Regions from separate parts of the Homo sapiens genome. Here region 1 is linked to region 2. Evidence: fine-mapped expression QTL. A gene starts in region 2. The other region holds a variant in brackets. All regions are shown on one strand. Distances are from middle to middle.

Region 1 (8,150 bases), 170 kb after region 2:
ATCAGACAAAGGAATTTGATGTAACAATTAAATGTGCAAAGAGCTCAGTAAGAGTATGTTGGGAAGGTTGCATTCTGAAGATCAGGGAAGCAATTATTTAATGAGTATAGTCTTGAAGTATATGGTTCTCAAAAGTTTGCCAATAAATTGCCCCAGCTCTTTAGTCTCTGGGAAAGATCCCTTCATGTTAACCTGTGGTGGTAAGTGGGATCTTACTTACCACTTAAGATGGTGGTGTCTGGATATCATGATTGCTTAAGAGTAATGATATCTCTTTAATTTTGAAGTTTCTTTCATTGGAAAAAAGTAAACTCTGTGCTATGCAGAGGAGACTTTAGAGGTGGATGGTAATACATATAATGTTGAGAACTAATGATCCAGCACAGTAGGGATTCTTATTGACAACCTGTGAATACTCTTTTGGGATATTAACACCTTGAGATCCTTCCTGGTACATGTGAGAACAACATTCAAGCAAACTGTCAAAGTTTTAAGTTAACTTTTAAAGTATTTTTGACTTAAATGAAAATAGAATGGTTTCTTAATGGTTGCAATAAACACCTCTGAAATTGGACTAGTGCTAATTCTAGAACTATCTGCCAGAATCAAGACTTAAGACTTCATTTTTAAAAACATTGAAACATTTGAAAGTACAAGCATTGAAAGTGAATTAAGTGTAAAAGGGAATTCATAGAAAATTAGCCCCTACCTTCTTTTCCCTTTTTTTTTTTTTTTTTGCTGGGGGAGACAGGGTCTCACTCTGTTGCCTATGCTGGAATGCAGTGGCACTATCATGGCTCACTGCCGTCTCAACTACCTGAGCTCAAGTGATCCTTCCTCTTCAGCCTCCCAAAGTGCCAGGATTACAGGTGTGAGCCACTGCACCCAACCCCCTTTACCTTTTTTTTAAAAAGCTGCTTTAAGTGGTTTATTATATGCAGCTATTTTGGTGAATGATTAAGTATAATTTCAGAAGCGGAGGTCAGCTTGTCTCAGCTGAAACAGGTTGTTACTAAGAGCTTTGCCTTTGGCTTTATAAAGGCCTCTTTGTTCATGCTGCACAATTACATAGGTCATGATGGCTTTCAGTAGATATGAATGCTAGTCTGTGTTGCTTTTCAGGTGAAACAAGGAACTTTTTATAGACAATGTGTAAATAGTTACAGGAACATGAAGTGTGAATATAGGGTGCCTTGTGGCCAGGTTTAGTGTGGTGATAAACACAGTACTTTTCAGGCCCTCATTTTTCAGATGAGTTGAAAATTAAAGGAGCAAGATGTAATTTTAATCTTTCAGATAATATTAACAGTTCTTTTCAGTAACTGTTGCTGTGTCATTGCCAGCTATTGGATTTCTGTCTCCTTTTGATAAATATACCAGAAGTGACACCTTAAAGTAACCAGAGTACTATCACTTAATACCGTGTATGAGAAAATATTGGTGGTATATTATTTTATAAAAAAATAGCTGGGCACAGTGGCTCATGCCTGTAATTCTAGCTACTCAGGAGGCTGGCAGGAGAATCACTTGAACCCGGAGGGCAGAGGTTGAAGTGAGCCGAGTTCACACCACTGCACTCCAGCCTGGGTGACAGAAACTCTGTCTCAAAAAAAAAAAAAAAAGAAATCATAGTTTACTTTAGGGAATTCTAGAGATTCTTATGAAATATTTGTTTTTATGTATGTAGAGTTTAAACATGTAAATTACATTAAAGATAGTATACTCCACCCTTATCCCAGTGAAATGATTTCATATTTTTCTTATTATGGAAACAATTATTACATTTCTTTGCTCCTAAAGAAAATAAACACTTGAGACCACATACCCCACATACATATACCATCACTTGATGTCTGATTAAAAATGTTGGCAGTTTTCCCTATGTTACCACTTTGTTAGAGTATTTTAAGGTGCAAATTTTGAAGGTTTTTTGCTAAAGGCAGATGGTATAATCATCTGATAAAAAGAAGTCAAAGAACCTAGGGGTGAATGGGCTTCTCTTTTTGTTAAGTCTGCCTTTTGATTTTTAAATTCTTTTTGCAAAACTAACGATCCTTTTCATAGAAAAAATTAGAATATAACATTCTAATTCAATTCTTCATTTAAACTGTTTTATATAATGTTATGGTGCTTACTTTAATATTTGCATTAAAAATGCTGATTTTAGCCACTTAAAAATAGAGGTGAGAGCATTATTTGAATAAAGAAAACAAAAAGTAGATATAAATGCTATGTGATTGTGTGTTTAAGGGTAAGGATAGACTCAGGGGACTAACCTTGATTAGAGAGTAAAAGATGCTATTAGGATACTATTAATTTTTAATTTTAATAAGTGAACTTACTCCAGCATTCAGAAGTTGTTAACTTCTGCTTCTTTTTGTGTGTGTGTGTGTGTGTGTGTGTGTGTGTGTGTGTGTGTGTGTGTATGAGACAAGAGTTTTGCTCTTTTTGCCCAGGCTGGAGTGCAATGGCACGATCTCGGCTCACTGGAACCTCTGCCTCCCGGGTTCAAGTGATTCTCCTGCCTCAGCCTCCCAAGTAGCTGGGATTACAGGTGTTTGCCACCATGCCTGGCTAATTTTTTGTATTTTTAGTACAGACGGGAATTCACCATGTTGGCCAGGATGGTCTTGATCTCTTGACCTCATGATCCACCTACCTCGGCCTCCCAAAGTGCTGGGATTACAGGCATGAGCCACTGTGCCCGGCCTTTTTTTTTTTTTTTTTTTTTTTTTTTTTGAGATGGTGTTTTGCTCTTGTTGCCCCAGTCTGGAGTGCAATGGCACGATCTTGGCTCACCACAACTTCTGCCTCCCAGGTTCAAGCGATTCTCCTGCCTCAGCCTCCTGAGTATCTGGGATTACAGGCATGCACCACCACACCCAGCTAATTTTGTATTTTTAGTAGAGACAGGGTTTCTCCATGTTGGTCAGGCTGGTCTCGAATTCCCTACCTCAGGTGATCAGCCTGCCTCAGCCTCCCAAAGTGTTGGGATTACAGGCATAAGCCACCATGCACAGCTCTGCTTCTTTTTTATCTGTATTTTTCACTGCTCTGATTTTTTTTCAAGTCAAGTCCTGGACTTGAGGCAAATTGGGCTTCTCCATACCCCTCTATGCAGTGTCTTTTCACACCCCAGTGCTCCAGTTAGGCCACTCCCTGTGCCTCTGGAGACCCACCCCTTCACTCTTGCGAATGCTTCTACCGTCCAAAGCCCTTAGGGGTGTATAAAGCCTTTCCTCTTCACAGTCAGGTGTGGTCTCTCCTGAGCTTTTAGCACATTTATTTATTTAGAACTTTAGTAACTTTCTTAAAGTATCTCACATACTTCCAAGTGGTCGAGGATGTGTCTTTAATATTTTAAAAATCCAGCTGGGTGTGGTGGCTCATGCCTGTAATCCTAGCACTTTGGGTGGCTGAGGTAGGAGAATGGCTTGAGGCCAGGAGTTTCAGACCAGCCTGGGCAACATAGTGAGACCCTGTCTCTACAAAAAAACAGAAAAATTAGCTGAGAGTGGTGGCACATGTCTATAGTTCCAGCTACTAGGGAAGCTGAGACCGGAGGATCACTTGAGCCTAGAAGTTCAAGGCTGCAGTGAACTATGATCCTTCCACTGCACTCCAGCCTGGGAGACAGAGCAAGCCCCTTTTCTCTACAAATAAAATAAAAATCCCCCACAGTCTTGAGGACTATACTATCTTATAATAGGTGTTTAGTAATTATTTGTTGAATGAATGAATACAAAAATGTTAGCATTCATTGTATTATGTTTATACAGTGAAATGTTTCTCCACTGTAAAACAGATGAATGCACATATAAACGCAGTAATTATTTTAGAATCGGATTTCTTTTATTATTATACTTTAAGTTCTAGGGTACATGTGCACAATATGCAGGTTTGTTACATATGTATACACGTGCCATGTTGGTGTGCTGCACCCATTAACTC[G/C]TCATTTACATTAGGTATATCTCCTAATGGTATCCCTCCCCACTCCCCCCACCCCACGACAGGCCCCGGTGTGTGGTGTTCCCCACCCTGTATCCAAGTGTTCTTATTGTTCAATTCCCACCTATTATTGAGAGCATGCAGTGTTTGGTTTTTTGTCCTTGCGATAGTTTGCTGAGAATGATGGTTTCCAGCTTCATCCATGTCCCTACAAAGGACATGAACTCATCCTTTTTTATGGCTGCATAGTATTCCATGGTGTATATGTGCCACGTTTTCTTAATCCAATCTATCATTGATGGACATTTGGGTTGGTTCCAAGTCTTTGCTATTGTGAATAGTGCTGCAATAAACATACATGTGCATGTGTCTTTATAGCAGCATGATTTATACTCCTTTGGGTATATGCCCACTAATGGGATGGCTGGGTCAAATGGTATTTCTAGTTCTAGATCCTTGAGGAATCGCCACACTGTCTTCCACAATGGCTGAACTAGTTTACAGTCCCACCAACAGTGTAAAAGTGTTCCTATTTCTCCACATCCTCTCCAGCACCTGTTGTTTCCTGACTTTTTAATGATCGCCATTCTAACTGGTATGAGATGGTATCTCATTGTGGTTTTGATTTGCATTTCTCTGATGACCAGTGATGATGAGCATTTTTTCAAGTGTCTGTTGGCTGCATAAATGTCTTCTTTTGAGAAGTGTCTGTTCATATCCTTTGCCCACTTTTTGATGGGGTTGTTTGATTTTTTCTTGTAAATTTGTTTAAGTTCTTAATAAATTCTAGATGTCAGCCCTTTGTGAGATGGATAGATTGCAAAAATTTTCTCCCATTCTGTAGGTTGCCTGTTCACTCTGATGGTAATTTCTTTTGCTGTGCAGAAGCTCTTTAGTTTAATTAGATCCCATTTGTCAATTTTGGCTTTTGTTGCCATTGCTTTTGGTGTTTTAGACATGAAGTCCTTGCCCATGCCTATGTCCTGAATGGTATTGCCTAGGTTTTCTTCTAGGGTTTTTATGGTTTCAGATCTGACATTTAAGTCTTTAATCCATCTTGAATTAAATTTTGTATAAGGTGTAAGGAAGGGATCCAGTTTCAGCTTTCTACATATGGCCAGTTTTCCCAGCACCATTTATTAAATAGGGAATCCTTTCCCCATTTCTTGTTTTTCTCAGGTTTGTCAAAGATCAGATGGTTGTAGATGTGTGGTATTATTTCTGAGGGCTCTGTTCTGTTCCATTGGTCTATATCTCTGTTTTGGTACCAGTACCATACTGTTTTGGTTACCGTACCCTTGTAGTATAGTTTGAAGTCAAGTAGCATGATGCCTCCAGCTTTGTTCTTTTGGCTTAGGATTGACTTGGTGATGTGGGCTCTTTTTTGGTTCCATATGAACTTGAAAGTCGTTTTTTCCAATTCTGTGAAGAAAGTCATTGGTAGCTTGATGGGGATGGCATTGAATCTATAAATTACCTTGGGCAGTATGGCCATTTTCATGATACTGATTCTTCCTACCCATGAGCATGGAATGTTCTTCCATTTGTTTGTGTCCTCTTTTATTTCGTTGAGCAGTGGTTTGTAATTCTCCTTGAACAAGTCCTTCACATCCCTTGTAAGTTGGATTCCTAGGTATTTTATTCTCTTTGAAGCAATTGTGAATGGGAGTTCACTCATGATTTGGCTCTCTGTTTGTCTGTTATTGTTGTATGGGAATGCTTGTGATTTTTGCACATTGATTTTGTATCCTGAGACTTTGCTGAAGTTGCTTATCAGCTTAAGGAGATTTTGGGCTGAGACAATGGGGTTTTCTAAATATACAATCATGTCATCTGCAAACAGGGCCAATTTGACTTCCTCTTTTCCTAATTGAATACCCTTTATTTCTTTCTCCTGCCTGATTGCCCTGGCCAGAACTTCCAACACTATGTGGAATAGGAGTGGTGAGAGAGGGCATCCCTGTCTTGTGCCAGTTTTCAAAGGGAATGCTTCCAGTTTTTGCCCATTCAGTATGATATTGGCTGTGGGTTTGTCATAAATAGCTCTTATTATTTTGAGATACATCCCATCAATACCTAATTTATTGAGAGTTGTTAGCATGAAGTGTTGTTGAATTTTGTCAAAGGCCTTTTCTGCATCTATTGAGATAATCATGTGGTTTTTGTCTTTGGATCTGTTTATATGCTGGATTACATTTATTGATTTGCATATGTTCAACCAGCCTTGCATTCCTGGGATGAAGCCCACTTGATCATGGTGGATAAGCTTTTTGATGTGCTGCTGGATTCGGTTTGTCAGTATTTTATTGAGGATTTTTGTGTTGATGTTCATCAGGGATATTGGTCTAAAATTCTTTTTTTTTGTTGTGTCTCTGCCAGGCTTTGGTATCAGGATGATGCTGGCCTCATAAAATGAGTTAGGGAGGACTCCCTCTTTTTCTATTGATTGGAATAGTTTCAGAAGGAATGGTACCAGCTCCTCTTTGTACCTCTGGTAGAATTCAGCTGTGAATCCGTCTGGTCCTGGACTTTTTTTGGTTGGTAGGGTATTAATTATTGCCTCAATTTTAAAGCCTGTTATTGGTGTATTCAGGGATTCAACTTCTTCCTGGTTTAGTCTTGGGAGGGTGTATGTGTCCAGGAATTTATCAATTTCTTCTAGATTTTCTAGTTCATTTGCATAGAGTTGTGTAGAGTATTCTCTGATGGTAGTTTGTATTTCTGTGGGATCGGTTGTGATATCCCCTTTATCATTTTTTATTGCATCTATTTGATTCTACTCTCTTGTCTTCTTTGTTAATCTTGCTAGCAGTCTATCAATTTTGTTGATCTTTTCAAAAAACCAGCTTCTGGATTCATTGATTTTTTGAAGGGTTTTTTGTGTCTCTGTCTCCTTCACTTCAGTTATTTCTTGGCTTCTGCTAGCTTTTGAAGTGTTTGCTCTTGCTTCTCTAGTTCTTTTAATTGTGATGTTATGGTGTCAATTTTAGATCTTTCCTGCTTGCTCTTGTGGGCATTTAGTACTATAAATTTCTGTCTACACACTGCTTTAAATGTGTCCCAGAGATTCTGGTATGTTGTGTCTTTGTTCTCATTGATTTAAAAGAACGTCTTTATTTCTGCCTTTATTTCGTTATGTACCCAAGTAGTCATTCAGGAGCAGGTTGTTCAGTTTCCATGTAGTTGAGCAGTTTTGAGTGAGTTTCTTAATCCTGAGTTCTGGTTTGATTGCACTGTGGTCTGAGACACAGTTTGTTATAATTTCTGTTCTTTTACATTTGCTGAGGAGTGCTTTACTTCCAACTATGTAGTCAATTTTGGAATAAGTGTGGTGTGGTGCTGAGAAGAATGTATATTCTGTTGATTTGGGGTGGAGAGTTCTGTAGATGTCTATTAGGTCCACTTGGTGCGGAGCTGAGTTCAATTCCTGGATATCCTTGTTAACTTTCTGTCTTGTGGATCTGTCTAATATTGACAGTGGCATGTTAAAGTCTCCCATTATTATTGTGTGGGAGTCTAAGTCTCTTTGTAGGTCTCTAAGGACTTGCTTATGAATCTGGGTGCTCCTGTTTTGGGTTTATATATATTTAGGATAGTTAACTTTTCTTGTTGAATTGATCCCTTTACCATTATGTAATGGCCTTCTTTGTCTCTTCTGATCTTTGTTGGTTTAAAGTCTGTTTTATCAGAGACTAGGATTGCAACCCCTGCTTTTTTTGTTTTCCATTTGCTTGGTAGATCTTCCTCCATCCATTTATTTTGAGCCTATGTGTGTCTCTGCACGTGAGATGGGTTTCCTGAATACAGCACACTGATGGGTCTTGACTCTATCCAATTTGCCAGTTTGTGTCTTTTAATTGGAGCATTTAGTCCATTTACATTTAAGGTTAATATTGTTATGTGTGAATTTGATCCTGTCATTATGATGTTAGCTGGTTATTTTGCTTGTTAGTTGATGCAGTTTCTTCCTAGCCTCTATGGTCTTTACAATTTGGTATGTTTTTGCAGTGGCTGGTACCAGTTGTTCCTTTCCATGTTTAGTGCTTCCTTCAGGAGCTCTTGTAAGGCAGACCTGGTGGTGACAAAATCTCTCAGCATTCACTTGTCTGTAAAGAATTTTATTTCTCCTTCACTTATGAAGCTTAATTTGGCTGGATATGAAATTCTGGGTTGAAAATTCTTTTCTTTAAGAATGTTGAATA
Region 2 (8,128 bases):
CAAGTCTTTTCAAATCCTCTTGGTATGCTTTCAGGGCAGCTGCCTCCATTGCAGCAAACTCCTTTGATGCCTTTTCTTCTTCCTTTGCCTTATCCAGGCTTTTCTGTTTAATCTATGTAAGACATACATAACAGTGAAAGTGAGATAAAGGACTGACATTTGCATAGAAAAATTAGCAAATAAACAATCTAAATTACCTCACTGATCCTTTTTGCCACATTTTCCTTATGATTCTTTCCTCTTTCATGAAATTCAACACTCTTGAAAATGAAAAGAGAAAATAACAAAAGAAAACTACATAAACATCATAAAATTCATAGTAAACATAATTTTCTCATAAACATGAGAAAATTAAAATTAAAATGAATGGCAGAAAAGATGAAAACATTAATTTAATGCAAATTGGCCCTTTTAATCAAATGATGCTAGGGAACTACATTGTTTATTATTATGTCCTCTGACTAGGTTTCCTTTGGTTCTTAAAATAAACCATGATGACCTTATTAATGGAGAAAAATACAAGGTACCCTTGATGACTAATCTAGTGACTATGATTGTAATGAGGACTCAAACGTGACATGAAGCCAAAAGACTGGGGAAAAAAATCTTAAACAACTTTCAACATCAAAAGCCTTTAGAATTTTATTGCTCTATTTGTCACAAGGAGGGACATAGAGAACAATGATTTTATTGCTTTATTCCTTAAATTTAGGAGAAAAGTATGTATTTTAAGATTCCTCGTAAATTATAAGCAAACACTTTTATACAATGTGGTAATGGTTCAAAATGTACAACTTCTATGGAGGATAATTTGGCAATATCTATCAAGACTACAAATACATTTACCCTTTGACACAGCAATTTCATTTCTGGTAATTTATTCTATAGATATACCTGCACATGTACAAAATCATGATATACACAAGCTTACTGACTGCAGCACTGTTTGCAATAACAATACGGTATCCATCTCTAAGGGACTGACTGGTTAAACTATGGTACATTCTCATAGTCTACTGTAACAGAGAGAAAGAAGCTCTTTATGTATGGATACAAAGGGAGCTCCAGTTACATACTGTTAAATTTTTTAAAACTAGTGCAGAATAATATATACAGTACATTACCTTTTATGTATGCTGGAATAAGAACTTGTGTCTACATGCATGTAGAAACAATGGAAGGATAGGCAAGAAAATGAAAAAAAAAAATGATAACCTATGGGGAGTGATGGCCACTAGATGACTGGGGACAGGGGCTGGTGAGTGAGCGCAATTATCTATTTAAACAATCAGAAATGCTCCCTAAATTACAAGTTTCTAGTTAAATGCAGTAAGAAATTCCTCACAAGCTCTGCAAAATAAGTTCTGTCAATCAAATCTTACATGATGCATTAACTGAGCTATTTTAAAATACTACCATGAATTCATCTTTAAAGTGTGACTTTGTAAAGCAGATAATCCTCCTGTTTTTCATACATTGCGTTTCCTAAAGTTGATTACACTACACAAAGAATACAATATTAAAGGACCATTCAAAATTAAATTAATTTTGTTTCTAATTAAAGGTTAAATCAATGTGTATTACCAACTCAAGAAGATAAAGACAGACTACACTGGAAGGGATTACTTACTCTAGATAACTCACAAAATTCATTTTACAGCCTAGGTACCTCCAAGAAAGAGAGACTTTAAGTGACCTGTGTGGTTTTAAAAATTCATGGTATTTATTTATAAGGATAGCCTAGGTAAAATAGTGAAGAACTTTAGCAACTATCCAAAAAGACCAAAACATCAAAAAAAAATCCAAATCCTAAACACCTTGCAGGTAACAGGAAATAAATGTCTACAGAAGAAATCCACAGCATTGTTAAAATATGAGACTACTATTCTTTGTGCATCCAACTTTGCCAAGTAAAAACGGTATCAACATAAAATATATTTAACAGATACCCTAGTGTTTATGTGGTATGTACATAGTATTTTGACATGCAAGAGGGGAGAAAAATCAGCGGTGTGCTTTTTGCTTTACATCTTCAAAACTGGATCTCAACTATGAGACAGACTAACAACATACCTAACAGAGTTGTTACTTTGTTTCATGAGAAAGGAAATAATGGTGTTCTTTCAAATTTAAGCATCTAAAGATACACAGCTCTGCATTAAATACACTTGATTATTTCTAGACCACAAAATATACAAGAAAAACTAAACATGTTGCTTTTATTTTTTAAGGGCTTTCCACAATTCTTTGGGTATGACAGTATTATGAACACCACCATTATAATATAGGTGCTTCATAACATGAATGATATGACCAACTCATTGCCCATTTCCCAAAAGGCCACAGAGAAATAATTTAATATATAATCAAAGTCAGGTTGATGAAAAGGAAGAAGGCTCACAGCTTTCATAGGGGACTGAGAAGACAGAAATCTTCTGATGTTTTGAAAATGCAAGAGCAATGTACATAAAAGTGCTTTGTAAACTGAGTTTACATCAAAAAGGAGCACTTCATTCAACACAATTATTATTAGAATCTCTAACAGCGGAATTATCATACAGGCCTATTGTCTGCTATCCAGCACTTGCAGTAATCACAGAATTTCTTTGGCTGTGACTTCCAGTAGTCCGCCCTGAAAAAGAGAGACAACAAGGCTAAGCTCATGTAAAACTTAAAAAAGGTTAAATTCTGCATGCTTTACAGTTTTTAAAGTTTGAAATATATGCCCCTGCTACTGAATCTTGTCTTGTTATGTATAGTCGTTTTATTATTTATCTGGTTGGAGCACAGTCAATTGAAATTCTGTTGCCAGCGGAGTAGAAAAAGTCTGTATCTGATTCATTACAAAACTCCCTTCAATAAAATGGCTTTCAAAAATTCCTCACTTGTTATCGTCATCGTTATGAAAAACTAAGGAACATCTTAGAAGAACATTTATCCTTTCTGGCTTTGGGGGAGGTTGCTGTAATGGAAACCTGAAGAAACTCATAAAGTTTGCCTTAAATCAAGTTATTCCCACCAAGAGAACAACGTACAAGACTACTCTGGGGAAAACTGTAGTTCCTCCCAGACTCTCAGTTAAAACAAACTGTTCTTGAGCCTCAAGGCAAGAGAGAACTGGAAAAGCCATGGGACTTCGTAGACGGCCGACAAAAAAAAAAAAAAAAAAAAAAAAAAAACCATTACGCTATCCAGGGCTGGCCGCTTCCAGTGGGCGGGGGAGGCCGCAGCCCAGCCCTAGTTTCACAATACCCTAGGGTTCAGGGGCTTCGGAAACCCAAGGGGTGCATGCGACCCCCGACAGCGTCGTAGAGAGAGCACTGCGTCGCTTCACCCGCGGCCGTCCAACCAGCCCCCTGAACCGGCCGCCGGCCTCCCCCTAGAGCCCGTGCCCCATACCCCAGGGCGTTCAGCGGGGTAACATTTCTACCCCGCCCTGAGAACCGGCCCTGCAGGTCTGGGGCCGGTCCCGAGCGAGTTAAGAACGCGTCTGTCACGCCCCCGGCCGAAGGGCGGGAGGAGAGGAGGGGAAGACCCGGGCGAGAAAGGGCGGCCCAGAGAAACAACACCTCGTTGTTCAGGGCCTGAGACCCAACTCACATGACTGCGCCAGCCGCTCTGCAAGTCGTCCAGGGTTCCACTCAGACTCGCGCTTTCCCAGCGGGACGAGTCGAGCTCTTCCAGCCGCCCGATGCCCACCCGAACCTCCCTCCGATCCAGACACCTTACTCAGTCCCCGGGACCAGCGTTCCGCTGTTCCCAACTACGGGTGCCCAGACGATCCAATCCGCGTTCGAAATCGCCTCCTCTCCCCTCCCCCTACAGGGGCGGTACTCCCGGCTCCAAAGAGGTGGGGTCGGTATAAAGGGGTTGAGGTCACCGGGAAGGGGTAAAAGCGCGACGGGACCTGAGCTGAAGGACGGGATCTCAAGCCTCAAGTCCCTGCGCCATCCCGCCGTCTCTGTGTCCTCCCCTGGGGCCCAAAACCTCCATCCTCCTTCTAGGCTCGCTGGCTCAAGGCCAAGGAGCTCAGCGCGCCGCCTCCGCCCGGAACGCAAACAGCTGTTCCCAGAGACGTCTCCGCTCTCAACTTTGCCAACTACTCCGCACGCACTTTGACCAGCGGAGCAACCGGGACCTGTGGGTCGGGGTCCTCTGGCGGAGTTAAAAAAAAAAGAGGTGAAACTGCGGGACCGGCGCTGCGAGTCGCTAGGCTTCGCCTCAAACTTTGCTGTTGCAGCGGAGCGGCCCCGCCCCTCCTCTCCCCTACGACGCCCACGCGCTCGGATGGGGCTTGTTCCCTAGCTCGGGAGCGTGTGGGCAGCAGCAGCGGCGGCGGCGGCGGCGGCGGCGGCGGCGGCAGCAGCAGCTTCAGTAGCGCAGAGGCGGCGGTGGCGAGAGGTGCGGCGAAGGAGGCAGAGGCACTTATGCTTGTCAGGTGGGTCACGGCAGTTTCTCATAGCACTTCCCATATGGTCTAGCGGTTAGGATTCCTGGTTTTCACCCAGGTGGCCCGGGTTCGACTCCCGGTATGGGAACGCTTCCTTATTTTTCTTTTTTTTTGCAACTATCGGTTTGGAGGGCTGACTTTTTAAATCTTGTGTTCTGGCTCCTTTCTTGTCCCCGTCTGGGTGAGTTTGTAGAAAATAAGCATTACTGTAGTTAGTGGCGCCAGGAGCTGGGCTGCGGCTTTTGGAGCCTCGAGTGCCACGCCGTGCCTGCTGGAGAAGCGAATGCGCTTCCGATCCTTCTCCCTCCCGCCTCCGGCTCACGGGGCTGGTGGGCCCTGAGGGAGTTTCACTTTCCCCTGGGCTGCTCCCCCGCCCCTCCGGCCCGTAGTTTTCCAGACGCCCGGGAGGTGATGATTAACTCCGGCCTTGCGTTATCTCCTCCCAGCGCCCCCGTCCGGCCCACACCCTCTTCAGCCGCTCTTGCGACTCTTCCTATGCAGGACGGGCTGACCCCCCTGCCCTGGGCGCCCCAGAGCCCGCGCCCGGACCAGTAGCTCTAGTGGTTCTCTGGCCGCAGGGTATTTACGAGGCCCCACGGAACACAGTGTGCCTTCCGCGCCCTCCCGGGGGGACGCGCTTTCCCGGCCGCGCAGCCGCCCGGCGCCCCTTTCCGCCGCGTGTGCGCTCGCGTCTCCACCCGCGGCGCCTGAGCAAGCGCGAGGCCGGCCTGCGAGGTCTTCCCAACTTGACTTAAGGGGCGCTGGTCGCAGTCACGGAAAGTACCCTCGAAAAAAGGCCTTTGGGAACGAGAATCTTTTTTCTTTCCCTTTAAAAATACACACCACGAGCTATGGAGGAGAAAAATACCACTCTGATGAGATGGCTTTAAATAAGTATATCGACTTTCCAAAGGGTCTAACATTTTGAGCGCGGTTGATTTAAAGAAAAAAATTGATTAAAACAACGGCAAAACATCCTGGGGTGGAGGTGGGGCTTGGGAAAGAGAAAATTGGCTGGAGACTGGGGAGGGGACGTTAAAACAAAGTTTCACTGTATTTTTAAATATAGAAGCCCTGTGTTTATTACAAAGAAGGGACAGCTGTGTCAGCAGCATGTGAGCTGTAAATGAAACAAAAGCGTTATCTTAAATGCAAGCTGAAATTAGAAAATAGGGTCGGCTATAATGTTTATTGGGCCTCTGGGAACAAACGAAGAAGGAAAAAGTGACTCTTGTAGATGGGTTTCTGGTCAGTGCCATTACTGAAAGCAGATGTTTTGGTTGTTAGTATGTGTGTTCCCAGACTATTTTGTAGCTTTAACTGCACAGTAAATTTGTTAATGTGATCTGCGTGATTAAGGATTAATTAGGCTTACCTTGTTAAAAAGAAAGAAAAAGCCTAAGTATTTTAAATCGTCTTCATTAATTCAAATATTTGTGTGTTTGCTACACACCAAGCACCACCACATGCTTTTGAAGTTACTGATGTTTGTATTCTTTATGTTAGCTAGTGGATAGAATACTGAATGGAATAATATTTTGGTCTTTGTGATTAGCTGTGTGATGAGACTTTTCACCTTCTCTGTTCTCTGGCTTTAGAGCCATACATTTTTGATAACACGTATCACTCACAAATTTTAAATAGAGTTACAAGAATTGTTGAGCGATTCCTGAATAGATAATGAAAGTGGAATTTTCATTTAAATAAGTAATAGTGTGTCATTATTAAGAAGCAGTTACTAAAGAATTACAGTAGTTGAAAATTTGGAAAGAAGGAAAGATAACTCGGATAACTCTGCCTTAATTGTCCCCAGAGAGGGCTTAACTTTTGACTTTTTCTTCTTTTTTTTGTTGAGACGGAGTCTCGCTCTGTTAACCCAGGCTGGAGGGCATTGGCGCGATCTCAGCTCACTGCAACCTCCGCCTCCCGGATTCAAGCTATTCTCGTGCCTCAGCCTCCCAAGTAGCTGGGACTACAGACACCCGCCACCACGCGTGGCCAATTTTTGTATTTTGAGTAAAGACAATGTTTCACCATGTTGGCCAGGCTGGTCTCGAACCCCTGACCTCAGGTGATCCACCCACCTCGGCCTCCCAAAGTGCTAGGATTACAGGCATGAGCCACCACGCCAGGCCTTGACCTTGTATTTTGTAATGAGTTTACAACATTGTACCAAATGGTGCTAAAATGGATGTTATTTTCAACTGTGCACTCAGTAATTGCAAATAGTTGTACTATATACCTGGGGGTGAACACAAAGGAAGTAGTTGCATCATCTCTGTATAAAACACAGATTTATCTTTCGTGTAGTTGTGCATTACGTAGAATATGGTAAGGCAACATCTGAGTTGTAGAAGTGCTACTGGAGTAACAGAGGTGAGGAATCGGTTCTGCTCAAGGGAGAGGACTGGAGAAGAGACCTAGAGGGGAGAGTGGACCTTGAAGAACTGATTGGATTTCTCCTGTTGGGGAATGTGAATCATAAAGCTGAGGTAGGGGGAACAAGTATGAGGCTGGCAAGTAGTCGGTTTGGCAGGAGCACAGAGTGCCTGCAGGGAGGGCCATGGGAGATCAAGCTGGGAATGTAGAAAGGAATTTTAACTTGATAAATTTTGACTAGGTAACAGGTTCTTTTATCAAGGAGTGACATTTTATGTCACAAAAATTTTTAAACCATTTCTGTCTCTTGGAAAACCCAAAGGTAGCAGTGGCATGTGAAAAATTCTTGTTTTAAAAGATTCAAACAATAAAGAAACATGTAGAATATTTTGTGTCCGTACATTTTATGTTTAGGAGTTGAATATTAATTTGTAATTAATAGAATGGAGAAAAGCAATCAGTTAATTAGAATTCACTTTATAGGAATGAAATCTAGGCTTAAAGTGTGAGAATAATCTGTCTTGCTTTGTTGAAAGTGACCTTGGTATTCGAAGACAGAGCTGCTCACTACTGTCAGTAAGACGTATATCTTAAATTGATTAAGGCTAGGTAATCAGTTTGTGAGGATTCATTCTTAACGCTTGTGCCATTGGCAGGCATATTTTAGGTGCTGTCTCTTGGGCCATAAATTAGTGACACTGAGTGCTGTGGATTTACCCAAATAACCTCTTTAATATTTGCTACTGTTAGGTGTAATTAGAAGATACATGAAAGAGGCAGGGTGTGGTGGCTTATGCTTGTAATCCTAGCACTTTGGGAGGCTGAGGCAGGTGGATCAACATGGCGAAATCCCATCTCTACCAAAAATACAAAAAATTAGCCAGGCGTGGTGGCACCCGCTGCACCTGTATCAGCTATTCAGGAGGCCAAGGTGGGAGGATCACTTGAGCCCTGGAGGCAGAGATTGCAGTAAGCCAGGATCTCAGGATCGTGCCACTGCACTCCAGCCTTGGAGACAGAGAGAGACTCCATCTCGGGGTGGGGGGAAAAAAAAGAGAAAAAGTGAGAGAGCCTGGACAACATAACAAGAGCCTGTCTCTACAAAAATAAAATTAAAAAAAAATTAGCCAGGTGTGATGCCACATGCCTGTAGTCCTAGCTACTTGCAAGCCTAAGGTGGGAGGATCCATTGAGCCCAGGAGTTCAAGGCTGCAGTGAGCTGTGATGTTGCCGCTACACTCCAGGTGACAGAGCAAGACCCTAAGACCTTATCTCTTAAAAAAAAAAAAAAAAAAGACG

Which allele goes with the higher level. Positions count from the first base shown, and alleles are read on the strand shown. Sizes are in standard deviations (SD) of each study's normalised expression.
As copies of G replace C in region 1, the expression in whole blood of the gene that starts at base 3,767 in region 2 goes down (large effect, 0.77 SD a copy in Lepik 2017).

The links. PIP is the estimated chance that this variant, and not a neighbour inherited with it, causes the effect.
Region 1: its variant is fine-mapped to the expression of WBP4 in whole blood (TOPMed, PIP above 0.99).

Annotation. Positions count from the first base shown.
Region 1 is chr13:40,888,797-40,896,946 of GRCh38, reverse strand. It overlaps the pseudogene TPTE2P5. Among named protein-coding and RNA genes, the nearest start is that of MIR621, 82 kb to the right of the region's middle. The variant G/C (reference allele first, on the strand shown) is at 3,952.
Region 2 is chr13:41,057,148-41,065,275 of GRCh38, reverse strand. WBP4 (WW domain binding protein 4) reads right to left here and starts at 3,767. Exons shown (of 10, transcript NM_007187.5): 1 at 3,601-3,767; 2 at 2,560-2,632; 3 at 198-260; 4 at 1-112. The coding sequence starts at 3,602. TRE-TTC1-2 (tRNA-Glu (anticodon TTC) 1-2) reads left to right here and starts at 4,467; the gene lies at 4,467-4,538. It also overlaps a transcript of ELF1 not described here. RefSeq lists a silencer at 4,973-5,152.